Linked DNA regions of Homo sapiens. The protein of the gene in region 2 purifies or fractionates together with the protein of the main gene of each other region. This does not show direct contact. Each region holds a gene or a part of one and is shown on either strand. Other genes may lie near its edges.

Region 1 (3,500 bases), on a different chromosome or scaffold from region 2:
ACAGCAACCCGGTAAGGTAGACAGAGCCATCTTGGTCCTGTCCTGCAGATGAGGAACATGTTCTTGATGGCAGGTGAGTGGCAAGACTAGAGTCCAGATCTTAGAAACACAGAATCCTAGAGTTAGAAGTTACCCTGACACAATAATCCAAGGCATCCTTTTCCCAGAGCATGAATCACCTTATAAAATCCCTGAGATTTCTTATGGCCCCTGCTTGAACTCTTCCAGTGATGAGTAACTCTCACCACCCATGAGCAATCCAGTATCAATACTGAGCTAAAATCCTTCTTATAACTTTCAGCCTATTCAATTCAATTTCTGCCCACAAGAACTACACCAAATTAAGTCAAATTCTAATTTACATTCTTTCTAAAATTTGAAGATATTACACTTGCCCTTTTCTTGCAGATAAAACATTTTCAGTTCTTTCAACTACTTATCATGTGATTACCTAGAACCATGCCTAAAATATATAGTAAATAGTGTTTATTGAATCGTTTCTCTTGCCCTTGGTACTATGTCCTGATCCTCCTGTCGAGGGGCTCCTTCCCTTACCTCGAGTGTCCTCAATTTTGTAATCTGTTCATCATTTGCTTATTTAAATAATAGGGAGAAAAGAAACAGTATAGTTTTCAGAACAATGTGAAACAAAATAAAAATTGTCCAAATGTCAGACAGCTTTCAATTTATTTTGTGATAATGGATTCATTATTTCACTCAACAGACTACCTCGGAGCTGCATTTCTAGAAGATAAGTCCCTCATTCATTGAGCATCTCCTGTAATAAGACACAGAATGGATCCCTGTGGAGAGTGGCCATCGAATTAAACAGAAAAATTCTAGTGAAGGGAGGGATGATTTGGGGTCTGGCTGGAAGACCCTGCATGAATACATTATCCTGCAGCATAGTTTTGCCTATTAAGAGAAGCAGCACCCATTTTTTGTTCAATTTTGGGTACCACCAGACTAAAAAACATATGTCTCTTCAAAAAGGAGCTCCAGAGGAAACTCTGACTATTTTCAGTTGGTCTTAATTTGGATTGGTGTGAGAGACAAGCACTGGTGTCAATGTGATGAGGCTGTGTCATTCCTAATGATGCAGAATTCAGCCAGCTTCATGCCTCTCATATAAGTGCTGTGCCGGGATGAATAGCAATGAGCTTAACATTTTGATAACTAAAGAGCCAGGAAATAGATGGTGAATGGTGCCCTACTTTATGAAAGAAATAATAGTAAATTGCTCCCAATTAAGGGAATATGCTTATTCATTAGAGTAATAACCTTATAGCAAGTTTGATGGTAAATAAGTCAAATCAAACATTCAAAACACAATTTCAGAAAAAGAACTGAGGCTAAATTATCCCATGATCACAGACTACATTGAAAACTATCAGAAGTTTGGCTAATTTGATCATGTTTTCAAGTTGTTCTGAAAACCTCTATGGCCTGAAAAGTAAACGACATAAGTTTCCTTTCTCTCTATTGCTTAAACAAAGAAACATGAAAAACTATTCTCCCTATATTGCAAATTCCGGTATTTTAGAAAGTGAGCCTCATCAGCAGTTTTCTCATCTTGAGTTTTAGAAAAGGCTGAATTTGGAAAGAGGCATTTCATACGATAGTATGTATTAAGGGTTGAGGGCTTGGGGACTGAGTTGTGATCTCCTCTCTCATAAAATATCCGCACTGTAGGCCGGGCGCAGTGGCTCACGCCCGTAATCCCAGCACTTTGGGAGCCCGAGGCGGGCGGATCACCACGTCAGGAGATGGAGACCATCCTGGCTAACACGGTGAAACCCTGTCTCTACTAAAAATAGAAAAAATTAGCCAGGCACGGTGGCGGGCGCCTATAGTCCCAGCTACTCGGGAGGCTGAGGCAGGAGAATGGCGGTGAACCCGGGAGGCGGAGCTTGCAGTGAGCCGAGATCGCGCCACTGCGCTGCAGCCTGGGTGACAAAGCGAGACTCCGTCTCAAACAAAAAAAAAAAAAAAAAGAAAGAAAAAGAAAAGGAAAAGGAAAAAAAAATCTGCACTGTAATCACATGGTAGGTGATAGATTCTTCACAGGCATAGAATGGAGGGAACTGCTAGTTAAACAAGACCCACCACCACAAGGGCTGAGGAGAGTCCCAAGGTGCCAGAGAAATTGTAGTGAAATATCACAGAGAGTTCTTGCTGAAAGACACTCAGATGTCCTGGGGCTTGTGTCTACTGTACTGCGGACTGACTACTCCTCTTTTCTTCCTTTGAAAAACTTATCCTTGCCTTCTCAGATCAATCCAAGGGGGTTCCTGGGGACAGCTGGTCCAACACGCTCAAATGAAGAAAGTAAGGTTTAGTGAGGTATGGTTTGCAAAAAGTCACATATTTGATTAGTAGCAAAGCCAGACATAGAAGCCAGGACTTTGGACTCCCAGTCCTGGCCTCTTTCTCATTTACCATGCTGCCTGCCTCCTGATGTTTGGAAAACATTCCTAAAGCTGGGGATTTTACACCTTCACTTGAATGGTTTTCTTTATAGGCAGAGGGAAAAGTACTGATCTTTGGAAGAGTTAGGATTAAAAACTAATAAGATGGGGGTACAGGGTGTTTAGGAGGAAGAATAGATACAGCAAGGCAAAAAAGGTGGGAAAAAGAAAAAAGGAGGTAATAGGAGAGATAAATATATGAACAATAAAATGGAAGAAAACAAGAGACAAGTGAAGAGGGAGAAATGAACTGAGAAGACATAGAAAATGGACACTTAAGAGCAGCAAACTGGCCAGGCATGGTGGCTCATGCCTGTAATCCTAACACTTCGGGAGACCAAGGCAGGAGGATTATTTGAGCCCAGGAGTTCGAGAACAACCTGGGCAACATGGGGAGAGTTTGTCTCTACAAAAAAATTTAAAAATTAAACATTATCCAGGCACAGCGACATGTGCCTGTAATCCCTGTTACTTGGGAGGCTGGGATGGGAGGATCGCTTGAGCTTTTGGAGGTAGAGATTGCAGTGAGCCGACATCATGCCACTGCACTCCATCCTGAGTGACAGAGTGAGACCCTGTCTCAAGAAAGAAAAGGAAAAAAGAACAGAACATCAAACTGAGGCAATCAAGGACTGAGAAGAAATTGGAGAAGAAAGAAGAGAAAAATAGAACCAAGAAAAGAGAAGAAAACCAGGAAGAACAACATGAGAAAACAGAGAGCTGCTGTGAGTCGAAGAGAGAGTGTATAGGTGGATGGGCAAGTTGGACCAAGAGGGATCCATAGGACATAAGGAGCATGCGTGGATGCAGGATGAACGAGTAGGAAGGCGAACAGCTGCACAGAGGGAAAGGAGTGATCAGAGTTGTCAATGCACACTTCGGGGAACTCAACAAAGTGATCTGGGGTGTTAGATTGATCCTTGGAATTACCTCAGAATGAGCTGAACTATGGTTCTAAGGATGCTGGTAACACAGGAGATTGTAAATTCCATATCTACAAAACTAAATCTCTAACCTTTCATCAGTCATCTC
Region 2 (3,500 bases):
GTTTCTGGTGAGGTTTGGATTTCTGTCAAAGTTTCTTGTCCTAGGTAATCATGGCTAGTAATTGCTACTGCAGAAGTGCCATGATTTGCTGTAGCTCCTGTGCTGGTTCCCATGGATTTGGAAATGACCTTCAGCTTGTGTGAACTTGGTTTATAGTGCTTCTTTTTGTGTTTAACTTTAGAATTGTGCTTTAAGAAAAACTCACATGATTCCTGTAGTACTCTTCGACTTTCACTGATTGGACTATAAGAAAATTGAAGGAGAGGATTTACTCAAATTAGAAGTGTGGCTATAAAGTAGAGGATATAAAGGATATCACATATCTTTTGCCAAAAATCCTTAGTCACTAAAGTTGAAAATTCTATGGTTTATATTATAAAATCTGGGATTATAAATACTAGGACATAAACTGATTTTATAAAATCTTTTGTGTATACACTCTAAGTTGCTTTTGTCAGTATAAATAGTAAACTGGCAAGAAATTAAGGCAAGAATCAAAGGATGAGGGCAAGGAGGCTCAAAACAGCATAAACGTACTATACATAATACTGTATTTGTATAATATATAAATATGTAATATAAAAGTAAACCAGAAGAAAAGGATAGAGAATATAATTAACGGTCTTCATTTAAATATAAGTCTTTTCTTTCTAACGTTAAAAATTAGCAAGTTACACTGAAATTAGTGTGAGTATATAAATATGAGATAGACATATAATAATAGTGCAAAAAAATCCAGTTGAATACGATTCTTCAGACTTCAGAAACTTATTTGTGAAATGGTCTACAGTTCTGAAATGAGTTAAGCAAACCAATGGGGAACAATTTTTAAAAAGCTATAGTACCTTGTATATAGTGTGTGTGCATATATATATATATATATAAAACTAAAATGAATTACTCATAAATATAAATCAATTTTGTTATAGAATATTCCATAAGTTTGAATTTTAACATCTTAAGTAAGACAAATAAGTGAAAGTTTAGGTCATAGCTGTGTGTAATAAGATTTAAAGTTAGTAAATAATGACCATAACACATCACTTATATTTGAATCATACTTTATAGGTTTCTTTATATATACTTAAGTCTTAATCTTTTATCCTTGATAAAAAGGATAAAATTATTTAAAATGCTGTACCCAAAATAATGAATCCAATGACAGCAGTAATAATACTGGATATACTATAAATCATGAAAAGAAAATATGCCTTTCATAAATCATTCATTCATATTTCAAATAGAATAGTATATGTCACAGACATATACTATATGATAAATAGTATATGTCAAAGACTATTGTAACAAATGCAAAAATAAAGCACGTCTCTTTCATAAAAAAAATTTCCAAACTTCAGTTGGCAAATCAAATTGAAATAATAGTTGATATAATGAAACTCTAGTACATTGATTTGAACAGTTCCTTGGTATTTTGATCTATTTATTTAAAAATTGTGTCAGACAATTCAATAGTTTCTTACTCTCTCTTGCGATTTCGTTTAAAAAACCCAGCCCATTCTGTGCATGTCTTTTTGCTTCCAACCCAGAAGACAGCAGAGATGCCAACAATTAATGTCATCAGGTATTTTATCATAAATAAAGCCAATTCTGGTCGAGCTTTTGCTTTTGCCTACAAAAAATAGTGAATAATAATATTTTCAGTGATGCACTTAAAGTGGAAAGAAGTCTATATTGTCAATATAAAACGAACAAAAGTTATAAATCTTCAACTGTTTTACTAAAAAGGTTTGAAATAATATAATGAAGCATGCTCTAAGTGCAACACATTTTTTATCTAAATGCTGAACAAAGAAACTTTATGTACCAAATCTCTAGAAAGGGGAAAATACTGAAATATATTTAAGAATAATCTCCTAAATCTTGGCATGATTTCCTCGCATTTTTTTCTCGATAGATACAGTAGCCTCTTATAATTGCCAGAATATTTGCCTCTAAATATGTACCTATTTTCCCCCACTATAATCTACCACAAAAATACATTTAAACTCATCATAACAAATATTTTACAGCTTTTATACGTTATTAATATTTATATTATAAAAACTTGGTTAAAGTAAATTAAGTATCAGTAAAATGCGAAAATTTCCTAAGAATTGAAATTATACTTTTTATTCAGGCATAAACTTTGAAATTCTAACCTTAAACATTGCACAAGGGTCACGATATTACATACTCTGCATTTCTTGCCTTTTTTACTTACTAATATTTCTTGGAGACCATTCTGTATCAATACAAATAGAGCTCTTTATTTCTTTTATTTTTTATTTTATTTTTATTTTTTGAGATGGAGTCTCACTCTGTCACCCAGGCTGGAGTGCAGTGGCGTGATCTCAGCTCACTACAACCTCCGCCTCCCGCGTTCAAGCAATTCTCCCGCCTCAGCCTCCCAAGTAGCTGGGACTACAAGTGTACGCCACCATGCCTGGCTAATTTTTTTGTATTTTAGTAGAGACAGGGTTTTACCATGTTGCCCAGGCTGGTCTTGAACTCTTGAGCTCAGGCAATCCGCCCTCCTCAGCCTCCCAAAATGCTAGGATTACAGGCGTAAGCCACCGCACCCGGCCAGAGCTCTTTATTCTTTGTAAAGGCTGTTGCATTGTGTGAGTGAACCATAACTTATTCTACTATCCCTGTTAATAGATACTTACTTCCAATCTATTGTCATTTGCAAATAATGTTGTAGTGACTATCTTGGTATTATTTAATTTCTCATATTTGTAAGCAAATCTGTCTATAAATTCCCAGAAGGGCAGTATCAGTGTACACACATTATACATCTGTACATACCGCGAAATTGCTTCAACAGAAGGTTGAACTAACTCTTAATAGCAAAGTCTGAAAATATGTATTTTGCTATTTATTGTTTCACCACACAGTGGTTAGAACACCTTTAAGATGTTTGCCGTATCATACATGGAAATATAATTTAATTTTAATTTTACATTTATTTTACTATAACTTTTTCACATGTTTAAGAATAGTTTTTTCATTTTTATTTCCTGTGAACCTTTTTCCTACTCTTTTCTCATTTTTATATCAGATGGATGGTTTTTTTCTTATTGATCTGTAGCAACTCTTTATAAATTAGAGAAATTAGCCTTTCAGCTATGATGTCATATGCAAATAAACTTTCCCAGTTAGTCTTTTGACATTGATTATGGATTGTTTGTTTGTTTTTTTTTGTCACGCAGAATCTTTAAAAAAATTTTTTTTTACTTAGTCAAATTTAGCAATCTTTTATAATTTCTACAACTACAGGAATATTATATCCTTCTCCACTTGAAGATTATAATTTTCTAATTCTATTATATTTTACAGTTTCTTACATAAAACATAATAACTACAGATCTTAAACTTGAAAACCATAGATCTTAAACTTTTTAATAATATGTAATAGTTTCCTCTCCCCAACCTTGCCAAAAAGACTGAGGAAACTAGGAGTCATTATTAATATAGCAGGATCACTTTAAGACACAGCC

The links. Proteins that work in one complex are often made in the same cells at the same time.
Region 1: the proteins of FZD6 (region 2) and POPDC2 purify together in Homo sapiens (co-immunoprecipitation; one large-scale study listed by IntAct). This does not show direct contact.

The regions. Positions count from the first base shown.
Region 1 is NC_000003.12:119,643,590-119,647,089, forward strand, and holds part of POPDC2 (popeye domain-containing protein 2), read right to left. Parts: intron 1-3,500. UniProt on the Homo sapiens protein: Important for the maintenance of cardiac function.
Region 2 is NC_000008.11:103,326,398-103,329,897, reverse strand, and holds part of FZD6 (frizzled-6 isoform a precursor), read right to left. Parts: intron 1,631-3,500; coding exon 1,482-1,630; intron 244-1,481; coding exon 1-243. UniProt on the Homo sapiens protein: Receptor for Wnt proteins.